Homo sapiens: one gene and its partners. The protein of the gene in region 2 purifies or fractionates together with the protein of the main gene of each other region. This does not show direct contact. Each region holds a gene or a part of one and is shown on either strand. Other genes may lie near its edges.

Evidence for each region.
Region 1: the proteins of KIR2DL1 (region 2) and RELT purify together in Homo sapiens (affinity purification with mass spectrometry; one large-scale study listed by BioGRID and IntAct). This does not show direct contact.
Region 3: the proteins of KIR2DL1 (region 2) and SLC27A4 purify together in Homo sapiens (affinity purification with mass spectrometry; one large-scale study listed by BioGRID and IntAct). This does not show direct contact.
Region 4: the proteins of KIR2DL1 (region 2) and VANGL1 purify together in Homo sapiens (affinity purification with mass spectrometry; one large-scale study listed by BioGRID and IntAct). This does not show direct contact.
Region 5: the proteins of KIR2DL1 (region 2) and GOSR1 purify together in Homo sapiens (affinity purification with mass spectrometry; one large-scale study listed by BioGRID and IntAct). This does not show direct contact.
Region 6: the proteins of KIR2DL1 (region 2) and PKP2 purify together in Homo sapiens (affinity purification with mass spectrometry; one large-scale study listed by BioGRID and IntAct). This does not show direct contact.
Region 7: the proteins of KIR2DL1 (region 2) and FLVCR1 purify together in Homo sapiens (affinity purification with mass spectrometry; one large-scale study listed by BioGRID and IntAct). This does not show direct contact.

Annotation. Positions count from the first base shown.
Region 1 is NC_000011.10:73,389,899-73,393,398, reverse strand, and holds part of RELT (tumor necrosis factor receptor superfamily member 19L isoform 1 precursor), read right to left. Parts: exon of another isoform or gene 2,849-3,500; coding exon 2,774-2,848; intron 2,645-2,773; coding exon 2,478-2,644; intron 2,256-2,477; coding exon 2,176-2,255; intron 1,189-2,175; coding exon 931-1,188; exon of another isoform or gene 1-930. UniProt on the Homo sapiens protein: May play a role in apoptosis. Induces activation of MAPK14/p38 and MAPK8/JNK MAPK cascades, when overexpressed. Involved in dental enamel formation.
Region 2 is NC_000019.10:54,768,422-54,772,592, forward strand, and holds the start of KIR2DL1 (killer cell immunoglobulin-like receptor 2DL1 precursor), read left to right. Parts: upstream 1-1,371; 5' UTR 1,372-1,429; coding exon 1,430-1,463; exon of another isoform or gene 1,464-1,470; intron 1,471-2,248; exon of another isoform or gene 2,249-2,427; coding exon 2,428-2,463; exon of another isoform or gene 2,464-2,516; intron 2,517-2,600; exon of another isoform or gene 2,601-2,643; intron 2,644-4,171. UniProt on the Homo sapiens protein: Receptor on natural killer (NK) cells for some HLA-C alleles such as w4 and w6. Inhibits the activity of NK cells thus preventing cell lysis.
Region 3 is NC_000009.12:128,350,527-128,354,026, reverse strand, and holds part of SLC27A4 (long-chain fatty acid transport protein 4), read right to left. Parts: coding exon 3,452-3,500; intron 1,390-3,451; coding exon 1,280-1,389; intron 1,003-1,279; coding exon 793-1,002; intron 613-792; coding exon 486-612; intron 1-485. UniProt on the Homo sapiens protein: Mediates the levels of long-chain fatty acids (LCFA) in the cell by facilitating their transport across cell membranes. Appears to be the principal fatty acid transporter in small intestinal enterocytes.
Region 4 is NC_000001.11:115,662,470-115,665,969, reverse strand, and holds part of VANGL1 (vang-like protein 1), read right to left. Parts: intron 2,310-3,500; coding exon 1,702-2,309; intron 1-1,701.
Region 5 is NC_000017.11:30,515,408-30,518,907, reverse strand, and holds part of GOSR1 (Golgi SNAP receptor complex member 1), read right to left. Parts: intron 1-3,500. UniProt on the Homo sapiens protein: Involved in transport from the ER to the Golgi apparatus as well as in intra-Golgi transport. It belongs to a super-family of proteins called t-SNAREs or soluble NSF (N-ethylmaleimide-sensitive factor) attachment protein receptor.
Region 6 is NC_000012.12:32,790,255-32,793,016, forward strand, and holds the end of PKP2 (plakophilin-2), read right to left. Parts: intron 2,478-2,762; coding exon 2,390-2,477; intron 2,239-2,389; coding exon 2,170-2,238; coding exon of another isoform or gene 2,025-2,169; 3' UTR 501-2,024; downstream 1-500. UniProt on the Homo sapiens protein: A component of desmosome cell-cell junctions which are required for positive regulation of cellular adhesion.
Region 7 is NC_000001.11:212,864,775-212,868,274, forward strand, and holds part of FLVCR1 (choline/ethanolamine transporter FLVCR1), read left to right. Parts: intron 1-3,500.

The DNA of each region.
Region 1 (3,500 bases), on a different chromosome or scaffold from region 2:
TAGTCAGCTTTGGGCCCAAATCTCAAGGGTGTGAGAATGGGCCACGATGATCAGCCCTGGGCCCAGCAGCAAACAGAGCTCCCAGGACTTGCACCCAGGCAGCATCCAGCAGTTAAAGGGAAGTCTCTAGGAAAACAAGCACAGTCCCAGGCAAAATGGCCCTGAGTCACCACGTTTCCTCCTGCCGGCTTACTGCTCCTGTCCGCTTCCTGCCCCCGCCAGACTTCAGTGTCAGGACTTAGAAGGGTCTCTGGCTCCCATGCCAGCCCCAGACAGCCGAGGGTGCTAGCATGGGAGATGCCATTTCACTCTTGAGGTAGCCACAGGCTCCCATGGGCCCAGGGCAGGGTGTGTGCGAGTGGGCCCCTGCCCTGCAGGGGAGTAGTGGTGTGGGGAAGAAGGAAAGGGGCCCGGGGCCCTGGGGGTGAAGGTGGTGGCGCATGCCTGTCCCTCCGGTTCCAGGCCTTGTAACTCAAACTACAGCCTGGAACCAAAACCCGAGCCCCTTATGGTGCCTGCCCAGGACAGGACAGCTGCCCTGCCAGCCCTCCTGCCACAGGGCACTCCTGCTACTCCAGGCCAGAGGTCAGAGGTCACCTTGAGTAACTCCAAGGCCACCATCCGACCCTGGAACCATACACACAACTGTGGCCTCCAAAGAGTCCAGATCCCCACATCTGGGCAAGGCTTCACCCAGGGTAGGATCCACTGAAGCCACTTGACCAGCTGTGCCACCTCTGCTCTGCCCCCACGGCCACACCTTCGTCCCCTTACCTTTCCTCCCATGTTGTCAGTCTGCAGCTATCACCTCCCAAGCCTCTCCCTCTCAGACCCCAGAGGCCAGGCAGGATTCCGCTGGCAGCCCCCAAGTGGAGCTGGGGCTGGGCTCGTGCCCCCGTCCTTCCCACCTGGACCCCAGCTGGGCCTCACCACTGCCTCCACCTCCAGGGCCGGGCCCGACCTCCTTGTGCGCCGTGCAGTGGTAGCCCTTCCGCTTGAGGAGGTTGCACACCAGGATGCCCAACAGCCCCATGAGGCAGAAGACAGGGACGATGGCGATGACCGCGTACTGGGCGGCTGTCTCCTCTGGGCCACCTGCCCGGGTGCCGTTCCCAGGCTGCCGTGTCTCACCACCGCTGCTGGCCCCTGCTGCCACCTCCACGCCACGTCGGGCCCGCCGCCCCCACTCTGAGCATCACAGACGATGGAGGCAGGACAAAAGCAGAGTGACACAAACACAGAGAGACAGGGGCCCAGGGCCCGAGTCAGTGGGGGCTGCAGGAGAGCCAATGTGCCCAGGGGAGCCCACTCCCCGCCATGCTGGGGATGCAAAGGTCAACCCACTGCCCTCCTGTTTTCCCTTCTGGCCATCGAAGCATTGTCCTGAACAAGGCCTCCTCAGGACGGCCAGACACCCAGCCCCACCCTCCCCTCACGCTGGGGTCAGGGGGTGAAGAGATGGCACACAGGACACATGTCTGGGCACAGGGACGTGGGATCTGCCTCCCTGTGGCCTGGCCATGAATCTAGTGCCTCAGGGGGTGACTGACTCAGTGGCGGGAGGAGGTGCGTGTGGGTATGTGAGTGTTTGCATGCGCACACTCATCTGCATGGGTTTTTTTAGGCAGGGTCTCACTTGTTGCCCAGGCTGGAGTGCAGTGGGGCGATCACAGCTCACTGCAGCATGAAAATCATGGACTCAAGCAATCCTCCCGCCTCAGCCTCCCGAGTAGCACCACCACGCCCGGCTAATTTTTTATTTTTATTTTTTGCAGACAGGGTCTTGCTATGTTGCCCAAGCTGGTCTCAAAGTGATCCTCCTGCCTTGGCCTCCCAAAGTGCTGAGATTACAGGCATGAGCCACTGCACTTGGCTGGCATGAATCTCTTTGAAGGGATGGGGACAGGGGACAGGTCAGTATGTGAGTCCCCAGCCCCCAGCTGTGGCTGCCATCTGCAGGACACTCTCTGCCACTCGGAAGCATGGTGGGCAGAAACAGCCAGGGGAGCGGCTGACTGTGCCCTGCTGGAGACCCTTTGGCTGCACGCCCTGCCCTGGGCTGGAAGAAGGACCCCACTGCCCCCACATGAACACTGCAGAGGCTGCTGGGCTCCAACTCACTGGCCCCTCCCGCACATACCCCTGCACCAGTCCTAGCCCCAGTCTGCCACTCACCATCACAGCCATGAGTACCCAGAGGTGCCCAGGAACATGGTTGACATGGAACGCGGGGAACCCCCCAAGGCCCAAACCACCTGCGAGGAGGGAAGATACCACTGAGGCCCAGAAGTTTCCCCAAACACTATCCTTAGGAGAGGCTGGATTCCTTCCTACCAGGCACCCTCCGTGGTCCTGCCCCATCCCATTTCACAGATGGGAAGAATGAGGCCTGCTCAGGGTACAATAAGGCTGGGGCCCCAGGATCCAGAGTCCTGGTCACCCAGCCAGGAGCCCTCCCCGCACTCCCTTTGGCTTACCCAGGCCAGCAGTCTCCACAGAGTGTATCTCGAGTTGCCATGCCCACCTGGGCCTCCAGCCTCCTCCAAAGGCTGCAACGGGCATGGGGCTGGCATGGGCTGGAGCCCCATGCAGCTGAGAAGGTGCCTGGGGGGCAGGGCCTGCATAATGTGCCCTGCCCTGGGTCCTGTGGGAGGTAAAGGGTGAGAGCATGGCCAGGAGCCAAGCCTGAGGACCCTTGGGGGCCAGGCACAGGACTCTGCCCCTGGCCCTCAGGGCCCTCCCAGGACAGGCAGGAGAGCAGGGCAATGCTCACCAGGTCGGGCTCCTCCCCAGGTGGGCACTGCCAAAGGGTTGTTGATGTCAGGGTGGCGAGAGGCCAGGGCAGCAGCTAGAAGAACAGTAGGCATTGAAAGAGGCAGAAAGTGCTGGGTGTGGGGTCTCTGGGGTCATCTATCCCCCACCTATTTCCTGAAACCCCAGTGGTAGGGACCACTGACTACCCCACCCGGGCTTCAGGGACACACTCTTCTAACCTCAATCCCTCACACTGAGGAAAACCTGTCCTGTCCCAGACCTGCTGCAAGACCAGTACCTGGGCAAGGAGAGAGCCACATCTGGCTCTGGAAAGTGCTGGAAAGCCCCAGATAAGGCCACATCAGGATCTCAAGCCCTTCCAGCTAACCAGAACGATGAGGAGGAAATGCTTCCGAATCCTCTCTCGTATTCTGCCCCCACTTCCTCCTACTTTGGGTCCATCCCTGGCCCCATCACAGCTGGGCATATCATTAACCAGCCTCATTTATAATCCCTGGAGCCAAGTCTGCAGGTGGCGCTTCCTATTCTGGGCTCTCCCTTCAGCGAAAGTCTCCAGGACCACATCCTCCTCTGCAATCTTCCCTCAAGGCGAGGCTACCCCATTCACACCCACACACCCAAACAGGGAGACGCATCCCAAAAGAAAGCTCCATCTTCTCAGTGTGTGTCCCCAGCCCATTTCACTAGGAGTTCTCTCTGCTTCCCATTCTTAGGAATGAACTGTC
Region 2 (4,171 bases):
TAGGTTATTTGCAAACTCTGTGCCATTTCATATAAGAGGCTTGAGCATCTACAGATTTTGGTATCTGAGTGGAGATCTCGAAACCAATCACCCACGAATAGTGAAGGATGACCGTATATGACTTTTATTTCTCAAATTTAAATATAAATCATAAAAAATGTACAACTAGATAAAAACTAAGAAGTGTTTTTATAGTGTGAGTTAGATTTATTTTTTCCTAGGTATAACCCATTGGTTTAATATTATTTATTGAGAAGACATTCTATGCCACCTTAAACCACACGGCAGCCTTTGTCAACTCTAAAGGGACTGTGTGTACACGGATGTACTTTAGACACTGTTTCTGCTAAGGGGCTCTCTGTGTCCACACTCTTGATGATGCTGCACTTTATGTAGCCTTATAGAACCCTTTAAATTTAGTAGCCAGAGCTCTCTAATTTGTTATTATAGGCTATTTGCTTTTTTTTCTTGAGGCGGAGTCTTGCTCTGTCGCCCAGGCTGGACTGCAGTGACACAATCTCAGCTCACTGCAACTTCTGCCTCCCAGGTTCAAGCGATTCTCATGCCTCAGCCTCTTGAGTAGCTGGCGTTACAGGTGCCTGCCACCAGGCACGGCTAATTTTTGGATTTTTAGCAGAGACACGGTTTCACTATATTGGCCAGGCTGCTCTCAAACTCCTTATCTCAGTTGATCCGCCCACCTCGGCTTCCCAACGTGCTGGGGAAACTTGATTTTCTATAGCATTATGTTACTGGATATTTCTGTAAAATTTAAAATGAGGGAGGGAGAGAGACAGACGGAAAACAAACTCCAGAGTTGGGACTCTGGAATCTTGGGTCATGAGACAAATTTTAGATTAAACTACAAAACTCCAGAATTTACAGGTGGGGTTTTTACTGATAAAGTACAATTCTAAGATTGTAAATAATTGCATAATCCTTCCCTGGGAATTTAAATCATTTTAACTGGTTCTGCTGTAATACTAGAAATACAAGCATGAAAAATTCTAATGGTTTATTAGTGACAATGACTCTGAAAACATTAATAATACCTATTAGATATTTTGCATATTACACAGGAAGAAGAGTTTGAATCTCAGATAAAAACAATAGAAATACATGAAAAGTCTTTCATGTTAGCACAGATTTTAGGCATCTCGTGTTCGGGAGGTTGGATCTCAGACGTGTTTTGAGTTGGTCATAGTGAAGGACACTAGGTGTCAAATTCTAGCGAGAACAATTTCCAGGAAGCCGTGTTCCGCTCTTGAGCGAGCACCCACTGGGCCTCATGCAAGGTAGAAAGAGCCTGCGTACGTCACCCTCCCATGATGTGGTCAACATGTAAACTGCATGGGCAGGGCGCCAAATAACATCCTGTGCGCTGCTGAGCTGAGCTCGGTCGCGGCTGCCTGTCTGCTCCGGCAGCACCATGTCGCTCTTGGTCGTCAGCATGGCGTGTGTTGGTGAGTCCTGGAAAGCAATAGAGGGAGGGAGTGAGGGGATGGAGATCTGGGCCCAGAGGTGGAGATATAGGCCTGGAGGTGGAGTTATGGGCCTGGAGTGGAGATCTGGGCCTGGAGTGGATATATGGGCCTAGAGATGGAGTGATGGGCCTAGAAGTGGAGATCTGGGCCCAGAGGTCGAGATATAGGCCTGGAGGTGGAGTGATGGGACTGTAGTGGAGATCTGGGCCTGGAGTGGAGATAGGAACCTGGAGGGGAGATAGGAACCTGGAGGGGAGATATGGGCCTGGAGGTGGAGATATGGGCCTGGAGTGGAGTCATGGGCCTGGAGGTGGAGTTATGGGCCTGCAGTAGAGATATGGGCCTGAAGTGGAGACATGGGCCTGGAGTGGAGATATGGGCCAGGAGTGGAGATATGGGCCTAGAGGTCGATATCTGGGCCTGGAGTGGAGATATGGGCCAGGAGTGGAGATATGGGCCTAGAGGTCGATATCTGGGCCTGGAGAGGAGATATGTGCCTAGGATGGAGATACGGGCCTGGGTGTGGAGATATGGGACTGGAGAGGATATATGGGCCTGGAGTGGAGATATGGGACTGGAGAGGAGATATGGACCTGGAGTGGAGATAAGGGCCTGGATTGGAGATATGGGCCCAGGGTGGAGATCTGAGCCTGGATTGGAGATATGGGCCTGGATTGGCGATATGGGCTTAGGGTGGAAATATCGGCCTGGAGTGGAGATATGGGCCTGGAGTGGAGATATGGGCTTGAGGTGGGGATATGGACCTGGAGGCTGGGTCTCTGCACAGCCGACAGCCCTGTTCTTGGGTGCAGGTAGGCACTGAGGGTGAGTTTACCTTCAGCCCAGGAAGGGCCTGGCTACCAAGACTCACAGCCCAGTGGGGGCAGCAAGGGTGCCCTGGTTTGCCTGCAGATGGGTCATCCATCATGATCTTTCTTTCCAGGGTTCTTCTTGCTGCAGGGGGCCTGGCCACATGAGGGTGAGTCCTTCTCCCAACCTTCGGGTGTCATCTCCCCACATAAGAGGATTTTCCTGAAATGGGAGGGAAGTCCTGTCAGGGAGTCTCTCATAAACTAGGAAGAAGGGACCCTGGGGTGCTGGGCCCACATTTCTGACCTTGCCTCCCTGGCCTTTCATTCCCTTGGCAGAGTCAAGTTCTGTGGGGACCAGGGTTAGACTACGGTGCTCAAAGCTGGGGTGTGTGGTGGGGAAGTGGTAGGAACAGCAGATCCTCTGAGGACAAAGGTGTTACTCACACACTTCAGCGTTTCCATGACGGTAGGGGCTGCAGTGTGGCTGCTGTCATTCTACCAGAAGAGGTGGGAAAACCACAGCCATGGCCCTGACATTCCAATCCTCTGATGGGGACTCAGTTGTTTATTTTCGTTCAGGCATCGGCTGATATTCCATTCTCAAAGGACATGCCCTCCACCCCATGTCTACCCTGTGTTGTTTTATGTGAGTAATCTTACAGTATTAAAATCTAGTAGGAGTCTCTTACTCAGCACTTGCTCAAAGTTCTCAGCTGACACTTTTGTTGTAGGGAGACACCTTGTGTTTGCGGGATGGGTCCTTCCTTTAGCCCTGGGCACCAAGGTGTGATAGCAGCCATAGAAACTTGGAAAGCGAGGAGAATCTTCAGAGCACAGGGAGGGAGGGGCGGCTCCACATCCTCCTCTCTAAGGCGGTGCCTCCTTCTCCCCACGGTGGTCAGGACAAGCCCTTGCTGTCTGCCTGGCCAAGCCCTGTGGTGCCTCCAGGACATGTGATTCTTCAGTGTCATTCTTATCTTGGGTTTAACAACTTCAGTCTGTAAAAGGAAGATGGGGTGCCTGTCCCTGAGCTCTACAACATAATATTCTGGAACAGCCTTTTCATGGGCCCTGTGACCCCAGCACACGCAGGGACCTATACATGTCGGGGTTCACAACCACACTACCCCAGTGGGTGGTCGGCACCCAGCAACCCCCTGGAGATCACGGTCACAGGTCAGAGGGCTCCTGTCTGGGATTCTCCTTGTCCCACCTCCTGAATCCCAGAGCTCCTGGTGGGCGTGTCCTTGCGGGTCCCATCATGCAAGTCCTGACTGTATTTGGGGTAAAGGGGGATTGAATACAGGGAAATGGGTGCTGTGGTGGGAAGAATAATTGTCCCCAGTGATGACTACATTCTAATCCCTGGAGTCTGTGACTATTTATGATATAGGGGAAGGGACTGAAGGAGAAGATGGAGCTCAGGTTGTTGATGAGTTGACCTTGAGATGGGGAGACAGCCTGGACTGTCCTGATGGGCTCAGTGTAGTCACAGGGGTCCACATGAAAGGAGGAGGAAGAGGGGAGTGGGGATTACAGCAGCATAATGGGAGTCTCCATCAGCTTTGAAGGTGGAGGAAGTCCAGGAGCCATGAATGCAGGTGGCCTATAGAGGCTGGAAAAGTCAAGGAACTGATTCTCCTGAGTCTCCAGAGGGAACGAAGCCCTGCAGGTGCCTTGATTTTACCCACGACAAACAGGGTCCGATTTCTGTCTCCAGAATTGGAAGGGGTTAGTGTGCTCTCTCCTGGTGCCATGCTTCTGATAATTTTCTACAGCAGCAACAGGAAACCAACACTGGAACCCAGGTCAAGGACAAGTTAAGAAACAACACAAGGATAGCCAGGCATGGTGGCAGGTGCATGTAATCCTAGC
Region 3 (3,500 bases), on a different chromosome or scaffold from region 2:
TCACGCCTGTAATCCCAGCACTTTGGGAGGCCGAGGCGGGCGGATCACGAGGTCAGGAGATCGAGACCATCCCGGCTAAAACGGTGAAACCCCGTCTCTACTAAAAATACAAAAAATTAGCCGGGCGTAGTGGCGGGCGCCTGTAGTCCCAGCTACTTGGGAGGCTGAGGCAGGAGAATGGCGTGAACCCGGGAGGCGGAGCTTGCAGTGAGCCGAGATCCCGCCACTGCACTCCAGCCTGGGCGACAGAGCGAGACTCCGTCTCAAATAAAAAAAAAAAAAAGAATGAATGAATGGACTGATGTACAGATAGAATGGCGAATGAATGAATGAATGGATGGATACACAAATAAATGAGTAACTTGTAACCCTAAGAGCAGAGATAACTGATGGCCACTGGTCAGAACAAGGCTCCCCATCCACACGCGCCTGGCCTCCTTCCTTCCCAGGCCAACCCCTCCCTCTCTGACCCCGAAGTGGCAGACCTGGCTGGCAGGGAATGCAGACGCCGTCGGGCCCCCGGATCAGCTCCATGGTGTCCTCGTTGACACGTACCAACCGGATGGGGTACACGAAGGACAGGATGCGGCTATTGAAACCACAGGCCCCCACCTGCGAAGGCCAAGACTTGGGCCTGGGCTCTCTCACCATGGGCCCAAAACTGGACAATGAGGGGGAAGTGGGACTCCAGCACCCACACTCTCACGCTCGAACTCTGCCCTCCCCTCTGCATCCAGTGCCTTCTGTGGGCCATCCCTGCAGCAGCCTCGCCCATCCCCAACCTGGCCGCACCTGGCTGTCGAAGTTGCCCAGGCTACAGTTGCACTCTGTGGCCCCGTAGAACTCAGCCACCTGGGGTATGTGGAAGCGGCTGGAAAAGTTGGTCCAGATGGACTGCCGGAGGCCATTGCCTAGTGCCATGCGAACCTGGTGCTGGTTTTCTGCCTCCCGCGGTGGCTGGTTCAGGAGGTAGCGGCACAGTTCACCAATGTACTGCACAATCTGGGGGTGAACTTGGTGTGATTCGAGGCTCCAGAGGCTGCCCTCACTACACTAGGATTCTCCTGATCCCTCAAGCCCCTACTCTCCCCAGGGGCTGGCCATGCCATCCTTTCCCTCTCCGGGTCTCAGCCTTCCCATCTGAACAATGGGAACTTTGCCACAAATGAGCCCTTTGGAATGACTGGCCACCTCAGCTATAAGACAGATGCCCCGGAGTGTAGTTGGGAAGAGGGTAACTAGGGGAAAGGGACAGCTCACCCTTCCCGCTCTCGCTCACCGTGCAGTTGTACTTGATACAATCGTCCCAGAACCGGGAGGCTGAGAACTTCTTCCGAATCACCACCGTCATGCCATGCAGCAGGCACTGGCCGATTCCCACGATGTTTCCTGGAGGCAGAGGGATGGCCCCTGAGGGTCAGCGAGATGAAGACCCTCCCCGGCCCCAAATCAGTGATACTGCCATCCAGCCAGGCAGGCTTGTGCTGCCCTGCAGGCTTCTGCACCTCACATCTGCCTGCCTTGGGTGACCTCCTCCAAGAAGCCTCCCCGGCTTCCATCACCAGGCTCTTCCCTGGTGCTGCCCTCTTGCTCCCTGCCTCTCTCCTACACTCACATATACACCCGACTCTAAGCACCTGGAGGGCAGGAGCTATATTTATTCAAGCTGTCTTCCCTTAAGCCCCTACAAACAAGCAGCAATGCCATGCATATCTGTGGAAACAAACTGAAATGAGACAGGCCCAGATGCCCCGTGGGACACTGCCACACACACTGTGAGGCTGGTGTGCTCATCCTTTTTTCAATTTAAAACAACTTTTTTTTTTTTTTTTGAGACGGAGTCTCGCTCTGTCGCCCAGCCTGGAGTACAGTGATGCCATCTCGGCTCACTGCAAGCTCCGCCTTCCGGGTTCATGCCATTCTCCTGCATCATCCTCCCGAGTAGCTGGGACTACAGGCGCCCGCCACCACGCCCGGCTAATTTTTTTTTTTTTTTGTATTTTTAGTAGAGATGGGGTTTCATCGTGTTAGCCAGGATGGTCTTGATCTCCTGACCTCGTGATCCGCCCGCCTCGGCCTCCCAAAGTGTTGGGATTACAGGCGTGAGCCACCACACCTGGCCTAAAACAAAATTTTTTTTAGAGACAGGTCTCACCATGTTGCCCAGGCTGGCCTTAAACTCCCAGGCTCAAGTGATTCTCCTGTCTCAGCCTTCCCAGTAGCTGAGACCATAGGCATGTGCACCACGCCTGGCTAATCCTGTTTATTTTTATTTTTAAATTAAATTAAATTAATTTATTTATTTATTTTGAGACAGAGTCTTGCCCTGTCACCCAGGCTGATGTGCAATGGCACGATCTAGGCTCACTGCAACCTTTGCCTCCTGGGTTCAAACCATTCTCCTGCCTCAGCCTCCTGGGTAGCTGGGATTACAGGCACCCGCCACCAAGCCCAGCTACTTTTTGTACTTTTAGTAGAGACAGGGTTTCACCATGTTAACCAGGCTGGTCTCGAACTCCTGACCTCGTGATCCACTCACCTCCCAAAGTGTTGGGATTACAGGCGTGAGCCACTGCGCCCAGCCTATTTTTATTTTTTTTGAGACAGTGTCTCGCTCTGTTGCCCAGGCTGGAGTGCAGTGGCGTGATCTCAGCTCACTGCAACCTTTGCCTCCCAGGTTCAAGCAATTCTCATGCCTCAGCCTCACAGGTAGCTGGGATTACAGGCACACGCCACCAGACCCAGCTAATTTTTTTTTTTTTTGAGACAGTGTCTCGCTCTGTTGCCCAGGCTGGAATGCAGTGGCGTGATCTCAGCTCACTGCAACCTTTGCCTCCCAGGTTCAAGCAATTCTCGTGCCTCAGCCTCACAGATAGCTGGGACTACAGGCACACGCCACCACACCCAGATAATTTCTTTCTTTTTTTTTTTTCCGAGACAGAGTCTTGTACTGTTGCCCAGGCTGGAGTGCAGTGGCACGATCTTGGCTCACTGCAAGCTCCACCTCCCGGGTTCACGCCATTCTCCTGCCTCACCCTCCCGAGTAGCTGGGCCTACAGGCATGAGCCACCACACCTGGCTAATTTTTTGTACTTTTAGTAGAGACGGGGTTTCACCGTGTTAGCCAGGATGGTCTCGAACTCCTGGCCTCAAGTGATCCGCCCACCTTGGCCTCTCAAAGTGCTGGGATTACAGGTGTGAGCCACCACACCCAGCCTAATTTTTGTATTTTTAGTAGAGATGGGGTTTTGCCATGTTGGCCAGGCTGGTCTCGAACTCCTGGCCTCAAGTGATCCGCCCACCTTGGCCTCCCAAAGTGCTGGGATTACAGGTGTGAGTCACTGCGCCTGGCCCAAAGCTGTGTGTTTCTACTGCAGCACACTGCCTGATGGGGGTGGGGTTCCTAGAGACCTGGCAGGTGCTGGAGGCTGTGTGACAGCCCTAGAGTTACCTGCTGAGTGGTAGAGGGGGAGGCAGTCATAGACGATGTCGTTGGGCCG
Region 4 (3,500 bases), on a different chromosome or scaffold from region 2:
CCTGTTTCTGCACCTGTCCACCAGACAGCGGTGCACTGGTCTCTTTCCAAGTGACTGTGAGTGCCACAGGTGCTGAGATAGAGCTCTGAAGGCAGCCAGCCTGGTGTGTCCAGGGCTCTGCACACAGCAGATGTTTAACACAAAACTGCTGGTCATTCCCTGATGCAAAACATGGGAAAAGAAAGCCTTCTGAGATGAATATGCAGCAAAGCGGTGACCTACTTGTCTTCAGAGCCCTACAGGCATCTGTGAAGGACTCTAAACCCCAGATTTTTGGTGCACAGACATGTGACTTGGACACCAGTTTCCACCAAGGATCAGTTAGGGTGGCAGCAACCTTGAACGCTAGATCATCCCGTTCTCGTAGCACAAGCCAAGCCAGAGGAATGGAGGAGGGTACACACCAACATGAAGATGGTTTGGCAGCATGGCCTGACTCCAAATACAGGCTGAGCCACCTTCCTGGAGCCCAGCCAAATCTATGACAAAGCCGATTGTTCTGATACCCACTAAGGTGTGCCCTTGCTGATTCTGGCTGCTCTGCCAGCTACATGATCACAGCAGTAATAGCTGCAATGAACTAAGTGCCTACCCTGCCCCAAGCAGGCTACACACATCAGCATATACTGCCTAAGGAGGCAGAGAGCCTGGGAGAGGGTAAAGGCTTTGAAGTCAAATGTCCCAGGCTCTGCATTCACCCAGAGAACATCTCAGTGCAAGCCATGCTCCATGCCAGGCACTGAGGATGTAATGAGGTATAAGGGTGGCCCCTGGCCTCAGGGAGTTCATAGTCTGTGGAAGAAAACAGATGGAAAAATAGGCCACTAACCACAAAGTGAGAGATGCCATTATGGGGGCATTCACTCAGCCCTGGCCTCATGACATCTGAGTGAATCCTAAATGAGGCTAGCCATATGTTTTTGTGCAAATTACTTAAATCCCCTAAGCCCTAGTTTCTTCATCTGTGACACAGGGATTAATAATACCTAGGTCACGGGGTTCTATGAAGACTAAATACACAATCTATATATAAAGTGCTTACCTTGAAGCAAATAAAATGATGGTAATCACTCTTATTTAACCACAAAATAATGAGATTTTATGCAGAGATGTAAGTATGACAACCCAACTGACTTCTAACTTTTTCTCACGCATACATTTTCACAACACTCAAGGATTACACATTTGGAGTCTCTAACCTGCACTTGATTCTTTATTGGAGGGTCCCTCGGATGACCATATAATTTACTGCCCAAACCAGGCCTCTGAGAGTGGGAAAAAAGGAACAATTCATTATTCCACTGGGACAACATGGTAAACCAGATGTCACATTTGGGACAAAATGGAGCTGCTGGTCACTTTATCTGTTGTCCATTGGCCAATTTCAGAGTCAAAGAAGGCAGCCATCACTATGCATCTCCTTTCTCCATCATTTTTGGGAGCTGCCAATAACTTTGAGAACAAGCCCAGCAAAATCTCAACCTGGGTGAGAGCCAGCAACTGCCCCGCACCATCTAGAAGTCCAGAAACTCAATGAACATGGACACCCTCCCCACCCTCGCATCTCCTCCCCAAACCAGAAAAGAGTCAGACTCTGGTCCTAGCTCTTGGCATCTGTCACCACCCCTCACGTGCTACAGAGCAGCTGTCTCCCAGCAAGACATCAGCCATCCTTTCTGCCTCCTGGATGTTGCCTCTTACCTCAGGTGTCCCAGGCTGTAGAAGCGGGACTCGCCATCGGTGGAGCGGACCACCTGCAGCGTGAACATGGGCTGCAGCTGCCTGAGCTCCAGCAGGACGATGGCCAGGTAATGGATGAAGAGGAGGGCATCCACAAGGGAGACTGCATATTGCACAATGCCCTGGTAATTCCGGTCCCGAGAGTCCAAAATGCGGACCCCGTAAAAAAGCCAATAGGAAACCACAAAGAGAAAGATGAGGACCAACAAAAGGGCACGAAACACAAACACCCGTGGCATGTCAGCTCTCCGCTTGCGGAAAAAAAGTGCCCAGGTCCCTATGAGCAGAATGAGGAGTTTGAATGCCATGGAGATAAAGAGCCCCTCACAAATTGTGCCACAAGGCTCCAGCTCATCCCTCCACAGGATCGGAGGTAAAAGGATGAAGGCAATAGGGGTGAGGAAAACTAGAAGTCCAAGAAAAGAGGCGACGGTGAGGCCCAGGTAGCGTTTGCAATCCAGCCCCACGCTGTCCTCCATGTCCTTGCTGATCCTGGCAATGTCCTCTTGGGATATGCTGTGCTCCGAGGTGCCTGTGATGGCCGTGGTGGTCTCTCCCCAGTTGTCATCCTGGTGGGGAGAAGACAGTGAGGATGACATGACACAGGTCATTTGTAAAAGCTACAAAGGGCAGTGAACATGCAGGGCCCGCTGCATCTACCCAGCCCTATTCACAAAGGCTTCCAGAAAATGAAAGCTTAACTCTTTAAATATTAGAACTTCTTAACTCAAACGATTTTCATTGAAATTTTCAAAATGTATGAGGTATTTACCTTTTCAAACAGAGAAAACATAATGTGATCTTTCTGTCTGTTTGGCTGATTCATTGACATAACATTGATTATCATCCCCTGGGTTGAAAAGCCTTGAGCAGCTCTGAGGGCCTGGAGCTGTTTGCCCTGCAATGCGCAACCCAGGTATTAGACTAATCTTGTGAGAGCTCATCTATAGAGATAAACCTCCTGCATCTTCTTTCCAATTCACGCTGGGTTATAAAGGCTTACGAAGTCCAACTTTTGGAGGTGGGAGTATTACTACACCCTCTAGCAGCCCAGAAGAGCAAAGGGCGTAGCAAGGGAACTTACACCACTACACAAACCCAAGCTTACCTGTAGCTAGGACCCACATTTTAAAATCTCTTTATGGACTGGGGCGCGGTGGCTCACACCTGTAATCCCCGTACTTTGGAAGGCCGAGGCGGACGGATCAGGAGGTCAGGAGATCAAGAACATCCTGGCCAACATGGTGAAACCCCGTCTCTACTAAAAATACAAAAATTAGCAAGGCGTGGTGGCACATGCCTGTAATCCCAGCTACTCAGGAGGCTGAGGCAGGAGAATCGCTTGAACCCGGGAGTCGGAGGTTGCAGTGAGCTGAGATCGTGCCACTGTACTCCAGCCTGGGCTACAGAGTGAGACTCCGTCTCAAAAAAAAAAAAAAAAAATCTCCTTATGATGTTCACAAGATCCACTTAACAAGCATCAGTGTCAAGCACTCTTTAACAATATTTCTCATGGACCAAGCTAAGCAAATCCAGGAATCCGTGTATGGCCAGATTGGCTTAAAAATTCTTTCTAAAACATGTTTTCACGAGGAACTAAACATCAAGGGCATAGAAACAACCAGGATTATTAAAATGTTATCTTTTACTTTCTAGCTTCCTCTCTTTTTAAACTTCTAGGCCGTTGCTAGTTAAAGCAATTAGTCTATTCACTTAGCAAAACCCAGTTGATAGAATTTTAAAGGATTTTGTTGTTTAAA
Region 5 (3,500 bases), on a different chromosome or scaffold from region 2:
CCCAGTGGTGTGACTGTGGCTATTGCAGCCTTGACTCCCTGGGCTCAAGCAATCCTCCCACCTCAGCCTCCTGAGTAGCTGGGACTACAGGCATGTGCCATCATGCCTGGCTAATTTTTTTTTTCTAATTTTTAAATTATTTCTAGAGATGGGGTCTCCCTATGTTGCCCAGGCTGGTCTCAAACTCCTGGGCTCAAGCCATCCTCCTACCTCCGCCTCCCAAAGTGCTGGAGTTATAGGTGTGAGCCACCAAGCTTGGCCCTAAGTTAGTATCATTTTGCTATCACTTCCAGGATTATTCATTTCCCATAGTCTTATCTCTCTGGACATTAGAGCCCTAGAGGGCAGGGTCAGTATCCACTTTGATATGTAACACTCAGAGGAGTGCTTTGCATGTTGACATTATAAATAGCAACAGAAAATGAAATGCTGTTGAGCAATTTTGAAAATATCTATTTTTTTTTTTTTTTAAATCAAGAGATTGAGATTTGGGGAAGATGATGGTGAGAGTATAAATTCCTGACTTGACCTTTGGTCCATTTCCTCCATGGAGTAGCACAAGAATAAAAGCAGACACACTAAGGAGGGTCCATCTGAGGCCCCAAGTTCCCTTGAGATCTCCAGGGAAGAAAGCCAGGTAGAGGGCTATACTCTCTGAAGTGAAGAGAGAACCAGGGAACTGACAGCAGGGAAGCTTAGATTTTTCTTCAAGCTTGAGGCAAAGACCTAGGGCTTCCTTGCTTCCTGAGGAACCCAGACAGTGGAAGACTATGGATCTGCATACACAGGGGTTGCAGTGAAATTGCTCCCAGGCACTGAAGCTGGGAAAGGACTGCTACATGCAGCCAGAAAGATGACAAGCAGAGAGCCGATAGTCTTGTAGCTGGTGTGATGCCCAGCCCCTAAGGGAAGAGCCCAGTGATGGATGCATCACTGCCTGATATGCCATTGCTTAAGAGGCTCTCATAGCTGGATCTATCTGGGAGCTGAGTGAACACATTTTTGGCCAGGTAAGGTCTCACAGAGTAAACCACCATGTATCTTATTGAAGGGAAATGCTAGAAGGAATATTCTAAACAAATGACACATGAATCAAAACTTGAATTTCAAGATTTGAGATGGCAAAAGAGAAACAAAAGTGTGTAAGGAGGTATATACAGGTTGAACATCCCTAATCTGAAAATCAGAAATCCCCAAGACTTCTGGTCCCAAGTATTTTGGATAAGCAACATTCAATCTGTAAAAGAATATTTGTTGAAGCATTTTTGGAATAGTAAAAAATGAACAACAACAGCAAAAAGACCAAAAAAAAAAAATCCCCCAAAACTGGAAGTAACATTTGAATGGTATAATAGATTATGATATAACCATACTTTGGTTATTAAAAAGGATGAGTTAGTATTATTTCTATTAACACGAAGGGGTGTTTATAACATATTGAGTGATTAAAGCAAGCTACGGAATGTGCAGAATATCAATGCTGTAATATTTTCAGAAACAAACACCCTTGGGGATGTTTGTATGACAGTGAAAAAGTTGTATATCAGTAAGATACACAATTGTCACTTAACACAAGTTACTTCAGAGGTTAAGAATGGAGGGGTACTACCAGGAGATTGACTTTTCCTTTATCCATTTTAGTATTAGTTAAGTTGTTACAATAAGAACATTTTGATAATATACAAATGTACTTCGATAATATATAAATATCTAATAAAGAAAAATGAAAAGAACATTAGAAAAATCCCACCTGAGTGATTAAGAAATGTTAACAACATCTGAAGCTACACACACACACAAAATTAACATGGACATGCTAGGATTTAGATCACTTTCAACTGAAATCACAGGCAGTGATTACATAGTATTTGGGTATTTAAAAAAATGAGTTAGGGCTAGGCGCGGTGGCTCATGCCTGTAATCCCAGCACTTTGGGAAGCCAAGGCAGGTGGATCACTTGAGGCCAAGGAGTTCAAGACCAGCCTGGCCAACATGGTGAAACCTCTTCTCTACTAAAAATACAAAAATTAGCCAGGCGTGGTGGTGAGCGCCTGTAATCCCAGCTACTGGGAGGCTGAGGGTGAAGAATCACTTGAAGCCCAGGAGACAGAGGTTGCAGTGAGCTGAGATCGCGCCACTGCACTCCAGCTTGGGTGACAACACAAGACGCAGTCTCAAACAAAACAAAACAAAGTTAGTATTTCTATTAACTTGAAGGGATGTTTATAACATATTGAGTGATTAAAGCAAGCCACAGAATGTATAGAATATGAATCCTCTAATAATTACAGAAACAAACATCTTTGGGGATGTCTGTATGACAGTGAAAAAGGTATCAGAAGGATACACAACTGTCAGTTAACACAAGTTGCTTCAGGGGTTAAGAATGGAGGGGTACTACCAGGAGACTGACTTTTTCTTTTTCTTTTTTTTTGTTTGAGACGGAGTCTTGCTCTGTCACCCAGGCTGGAGTGCAGTGGCGCGATCTTGGCTCACTGCAACCTCCGCCTCCCAGGTTCATGCCATTCTCCTGCCTCAGCCTCCTGAGTAGCTGGGACTACAGGCGCCTGCCACCACGCCCAGCTAATTTTTTGTATTTTTAGTAGAGACGGGGTTTCACCGTGTTAGCCAGGATGGTCTCGAACTCCTGCCCTCGTGATCCGCCCGCCTCAGCCTCCCAAAGTGCTGGGATTACAGGCGTGAGCCACCGCGCCCGGCTGACTTTTTCTTTATCCGTTTTAGTATTATTTAAGTTGTTACAATAAGAACACTGTACTTGTATAATATACAATATACAAGTGTCTAATAAAAGAAAAATGAAAACATTAGAAAAATTCCACTTGATTAAGAAACGTTAAATAACATTTGAAGCTACACACACAATTAACATGGACACACTAGGATTTGGATCACTTTCAACTGAAATCACAGGCAATATCTGCAAATTTAGAAAATGAAAAGTCCTAGAGAATATTACAGTTCTTCCAGGGTCCTGATTTCCTATGTGTTTTAATGCTGACAATCCCATCTTCCCAATACTTTTAGGCCTATTCTAGAAAAATATCTGTTCATGTGGAGATATTATGGTCTGGTCTTTTGAAATGACATTTCAGAATAAAGAAATGTAACTGGGTAAAACTAAAACAAACAAAAAAATACATTAGCAGCTCCAAATCCACCACTGTGATGCACCTCAATAAAATTATGAGTCAAGCAATGATTTTAAAAAGTTTTCCACAGATCTCAGAAATGCTCAAGAATGGAAGGGATCACTCTCTCTGAGGGCAGAACTGTGGAGTAGGGTTAAAAATGGAGATTTGTAGAAATTTGTACAAGGAGTTGCCATAACCCAAAATTGCCCTTCCTAACGCATGCAGCTAGGTGGCTGCCCCTAGTCCAGTAGAAGACCTAGCTCAGGAGAAGAGACATAGAGGTCTGGCAATTTGAAGTCCCCAGTGAAACAGCCAGGTCCGCCTGATCACGCATGGTGAGGCCTAACA
Region 6 (2,762 bases), on a different chromosome or scaffold from region 2:
TAGTTTCTCTGAAGGCATGGGCCCTGTCTGGGACACATAGGAAAACAAACACATTTATGTATAGACCTGTGATCAAAACTGTTCATTCACAGAAGAACCTCCCTGAGAGGTGTTCACAAATTGTAAAGTAGTGAGGTGTTTGCAAACAGAGTGAACAAAGCAGCACATGGAAATCAAACGTAGTCTGTCTTTTCACAGTCACAGAATCACCCAATAATATACTAAAATCTAACCGCAGCTAACACGTCTGCATGTGTCTTCATTTTTATGGTCAGGTCACCATCTAGTCCCACCATTCTCACAGGAAATGTCTCTTGGTAAAAATTTAGGATTTTAATTAAGGGGAAAATATAACTAATTACAAAGTATCAAACCCTTAGTAATTGAAGTTTATAAGGTTAAATCCTCAAATTTTATGTCAATCATACCATATATTCCAAGATACACAAATAAACCAGATATACACAGACGCCAATGCAAGCAACACTACTTTGGTCTCATTTTGTATTTAATATTATCGAAGGCTTTATTAATGCCTTAAAAAACACAAAAAGTTCTGAACACACATTTATTATCTGGAGGAATAAATGCACTCCAAATGCTTATCATCAGAACTCTGGAAAAAGACATATAAATTCTCTCCAGTATTTTAAAAATTGGTATCTAAATAATTTCATTTTGAACTAGGTTAGCAACCTAAGTTGTCTTCATTCAGCTTTTAAAATTGAAAAAAAATTGCTTCAAATATAATAAAGACTTAAGTACACATTCAAAATTTATTTTCTGTTACAGTTTTCTTGCCAAAAGGAGTTGAAGAATTTTTTTGCTTATCTTACTTAGGACAAATGTTGTCAGATTAAAAAAAAAAATAACAGAATAGTAGTTGTAAAGACTAACTCTATATGAATGGTTTTAATCATAGCGCAGTTAAAACAACATTTAATGTAGATTCATTTCGCTGGATGATGTCAACCATTTAAAATATCAGTATTTCTCATATCATTTCTGGATGGTCTTGACACATTCTTACATCTTCTTCAACATGACTTCTTCACTTTTCTTCTCTAGAGTTTTCTTGAGTTAAAATAATGGCTTGAAGAAGATCATATGAGATCTAGTGGCTCTGTGATATTTCTTAAATGGTGGGCAAGGCTGGGCTGGCTGATAATGTAACTCATTAACATGAGCCGTATTTTCAGTGCCCCAGGCTGGCCAGGCAGTCTGAGAGAAGGCCTTAGTTCCTCTTGCAGATAAAGATAGAGTCCATTCTTTCACTAGTCCAGGGCAGTGGCCAAAAAAGTCCAGGAAAGGCATTACATAGAATGCCATCGTTTAGAAGAGATTTGGATTTAACGGCGTTGTTATAGGTAAAGTATCTCCTGAGAAAAATCTCATTGACTCAGTGTTTGGGGGAACGTTAAATTTTATCATCACAGTTGCCTTTCTCTGTGGAAAAGATTTTATTTATTTATTTATTTTTTATTTTACTTTAAGTTCTGGGAGGAAAAGACTTCTTTAATTTGCTATGATCACTTCCTCTCAATTTCTTTTTCTTACAGTCATGCATACTCTGTAATCTAAATTTCTTAAGTTTATTTAAAAATCAGAGAAAAACAACCCAAGGGGATAAAAACAAGCACAAAGTAAAGAAAGAAACCAATAATTTTGCCATTATACTTTCTCCTGGATAACTGCAGATATTTCTTGTCATTTCCATTCTGTTTCAACACTGCAGAACAATACACTGGAGGCCCAATGGCGAAGCAATGTGCACATGAGTGACAAAACATGGGAACCAGAAAAGGAATATAAATGTAAATCAAACTTTTAAAATCCCAGTAATGCAACAGCTTCTTTCCTTATTTATTGGATTAATGTCCCTTCCACATGAATTCACATTTTGATTCCAGGAAGCCATGTACCATAAGCCCTAATAACAAAGACCACTATTTGTCGAGCCTGTGGCCGGTATCTACTGGTGGCAAACTTGCAAAGGTCTTCTGGAAGACTCATAAAATTATGTTCTATTTGTTTTCTGGATTCAGGGGACCACGGAAATAGAGAAGGATAGAAACAAGGCATGCTTTTGAGGTTTCTTGGGCTGGGTAGTAGAAAAATAGGTGTTTTCCTTTGGGGATTTTTGCAGCCGAGAATACTTTGTCATTTTCCTCAGTCTTTAAGGGAGTGGTAGGCTTTGGCAGTCCGGCTGTTGACAAAATCTGTCTTCTTAAACTGAGCCTTTGGAATAAGCAAACAGAAACGTGAAAGGTAACAAAACTGGCACACAAGAAAATGCAGTTTTTTAGCGATTTCTTCCCAGGGTCAAGTCAAGTGGGCCATTATTACCTGGCTCTGTTAACTATGACACATTCCTTGTTCATGTTCTTACCTTCTTGTAGGCATGATGCAGTTCCGTGTGTGCCCACAGAGAATACAGAAGGACGGAAGCAGCTTTACTTGCTTTGTTGGAGGCATAGCTGAAAAGAAAAGGACATTCTGAGATCAGGGAGAATGAGTGAGGCTTCTGGATGCGGCCTGTGGGTGTTCTGTAAGACCTCTTCGCTCCTCAACTGCTACTCCGCAGCAGCCATCCATGAAGTCAGGCCACTCGGTGACCAGACAATTAGGCAGCAAGCTCTGCAAGGCGGGGACCATATCTGTTTTTGTTTTCTTTTTAAACCACTAGCACAGTGCTAATAAATAAATAGTTTATAGGCCAGGTGGGGTGGCTCACGCCTGTAATCCCAGCACTTTTGGGAGGC
Region 7 (3,500 bases), on a different chromosome or scaffold from region 2:
AAAATTCATATTTTGTGATCTCCAGATATAAAATTCTTAGTTTTCAAAGAAATGTATGCTGAAGATTCTAGAGTGTTTGGGTAGAGACTGCCTTGGTAGATGAACTGCAGGATCCAGGTACAGGAAGCTCAGCCCACATACTTAATTTCCCTTAATATAATGAGCAGAATGTTCTCTTGGTAACATATGAAGTATTCAAACATGTGTAATCCACTTGTTGGTTTTGGTTTTCAGTTAGTTATGGAGTGGCATATTTGTGATGTGCAGACTACTAAGAAGGACACATTATTCCTATCCTATTTTAGCAGTTTAGCAAAGTTTTAAAAGAAATTTGTATTCTTAAAAAAAAAACACCAAAATTCTTTTTTTTTTTATTATAAGTTTTAGGGTACATGTGCACAACGTGCAGGTTTGTTACATATGTATACATGTGCCATGTTGGTGTGCTGCACCCATTAACTCGTCATTTACATTAGGTATATCTCCTAATGCTATCCCTCCCCCCACCCCCCATCCCACAATAGGTCCCGGTGTGTGATGTTCCCCTTCCAGTGTCCATGTGTTCTCATTGTTCAGTTCCCACCTATGAGTGAGAGCATGCGGTAAAAACACCACAATTCTTAAGTCTGCTTTTCTGGTAGCCATGTTTGATTTGCTAGATGAAATAGGAAATACATTTTGCATAAATGGACCTTCCATTTGCAATAGGGATTTTTTTTTTTTTTTGAGACAGAGTCTCGCTCTGTCACCCAGGCTGGAGTGCAGTGGCATGATCTCAGCTCACTGAAACCTCTACCTCCCAAGTTCAAGTGATTCTCCTGCCTCAGCCTCCCGAGCAGCTGGGCTTACAGGCATGCACCACCATGCCAGCTAATTTTTGTATTTTCAGTAGAGACAGGGTTTCACCATGTTGGTCAGGTTGGTCTCAAACTCCTGACCTCAAATGATCCACCTGCCTCAACCTCCCAAAGTGCTGGGATTATAGGCATGAGCCACCAGGCCCGGCCAGCAATAGGGATTTTTAAAGTATAGAATTCTCTCTCTTTTTTTTTTTTTATCAAGACGGAGTCTCGCTCTGTCACCCAGGCTGGAGGGCAGTGGCGCTATCTGGACTCACTGCAATCTCTGCCTCCTGGGTTCAAGCAGTTCTCGTGCCTCAGCCTCCCTCCCTGGGATTACAGGCATTTGGCTAATTTTTGGGGTTTGGTTTTTTTTTTTTTTTTTTTTTGAGACAGAGTCTTGCTCTGTCAGCCAGGCTGGAGTGCAGTGGCGCAATTTCGACTCACTGCAACCTCTGCCTCCCACATTCAAGGGATTCTTGTGCCTCAGCCTCCCAAGTAGCTGAGATTACAGGCGCGTGCCACCATGCCTGGCTAATTTTTGTATTTTTAGTAGAGACGGGGTTTCACCATGTTGGCCAGGCTGGTCTCGAACTTCTGACCTCAGGTGATCTGCCCGCCTTGGCCTCCCAAAGTGCTGGAATTACAGGCATGAGCCACCGAGCCCGGCCTTTTTTGTGTGTTTTTAGTAGAGATGGGGTTTCACCATGTTGGCCAGTCTGGTCTCGAACTCCTGACCTCAAATGATCTGCCTGCCTCGGCCTCCCAAAGGGCTGGGATTACTGGTGTGAGCCACTGCACCCGGCCAAAATTCTCTTTCTTTTGATTACTTTTGTGTCTTCACATAAATTCTGATTTTCCTTTTTTTTTTTTTTTAAATCCTCTTCAATTGCTTGTCTCAGAAAGAAGTGAGAAAGTAAGAGATTGCATGTAAGATATCACGAAATCATACATGTGATGTGTGTATGTTTAAACTGCTACAAATAAAAGATCTTTACTTGTTGAAGGAGGGAGACCAAGAATGATAATAATAGGTATGACTATTGGCATATTACCCTTTGTTATTTGAGAAATTAAAAGAGATCTGATTATGTACTTAACTAATTATGTACTCATGGCCTACAGGTAGAGAGTGGAAATAGAAATGAGGGGAAAATAATGGGAAATATGGCATTAAACAAAGGCTCTTTGTCAACTTTTGCTTGGAGGACTCTAATTTTAATTTTATGATCCCAAGCATATTATAAAAGCAAGATAGTATACAGCTGTGATATGAAAGTCTTAAGTTGAAAATTGTGACATTTAAATAGAACACATACTTGTTTTCCTCATTCCCAAATATTTGCTATTGAGCAAACTTTGGATTACTTAAAAAAATCCATACCAAATAAAGTTCCTTAATTACTAAAAGGTGATTTTACTTCTCTCTGAATTCTATCCATACTTACTTTGGAAGTCCCACCACGTCCTCATAAAATAATTTAATTTTGTTGAGATTTTTCCGCAACGTGACATGTACTAAATTGATACTCAGCAGTCTGCTTAAAATATTTTCTCAAAGGTTCATGCCATGTAACTGTTCCTCTCCCTCATGGAGCTTATATTGAGTATAATCCATCTAGTGTTTCCAGGAATTAACCCAAGCATTCCACTGAATTTCACACTAATACCCTATTCCTATTAGGAGAACTCTATTATAGCCTCAAACATTTGGTTTGTTGGTATGTGCCAAACATGTTTGGAGGCTTACTACATGCTGTATCTCATTTAATCCTCATGACTCTGTGAGGAGGGTACCAATATTCCCATTTTATAGACAAGGAAACTGAGGCACAGAATTTAGTTAAATCTAATTTGTCCAAGGTTATAGTAAACACTGAAGGTCAGATTTAAGCCTAGACAATTTAACTCCCTATATAAAAGTTACAGATAAAAAATAACATTTTAATTTTTACTGAGCCTTATTTTTTGTTCGAATTCAGATTCTTGCATAAGTGGTAATGCTGTTGTATTTAAAAGCTGTTCTTGTGCAGCAGAGCAGTAAACTATGTCATTTAACTCATGTGTCAATTAAAATACTTTCCTGATTCACTAAAATGAGTGGATGACAGAAGCCAAAAGTAATCACAATAAAAATATTTAATATTAATATGCTTAAACACATAAGCATATAATGTGTGCATAATTTTACTTTTTTTTTTTTTTTTTGAGATGGAGTCTCGCTCTTTCACCCAGGCAGGAGTACAGTGGCGCGATCTTGGCTCACTGCAAGCTCTGCCTCCCGGGTTCACACCATTCTCCTGCCTCAGCCTCCTGAGTAGCTGGGACTACAGGCACCCACCACCGCGCCCGGCTAATTTTTTGTATTTTTAGTAGAGATGGGGTTTCACCGTGTTAGCCAGGATGGTCTCGATCTCCTGACCTCATGATTCGCCCACCTCAGCCTCTCAAAGTGCTGGGATTACAGGTGTGATAATTTTACTTTTAATTCTTTTTTAAGAGATGGGGTCTCGCCCTGTCACCCAGGCTGGAGTGCAGTGGCACAATCTCAGCTCACTGCACCCTTGATCTCCTGGCCAGCCTTAAGCAATCTTCCTACCTCAGCCCTCTGAGTAGCTGGGACTACAGGTGTGTGCTATCATGCCTGGCTATTTTTTATAT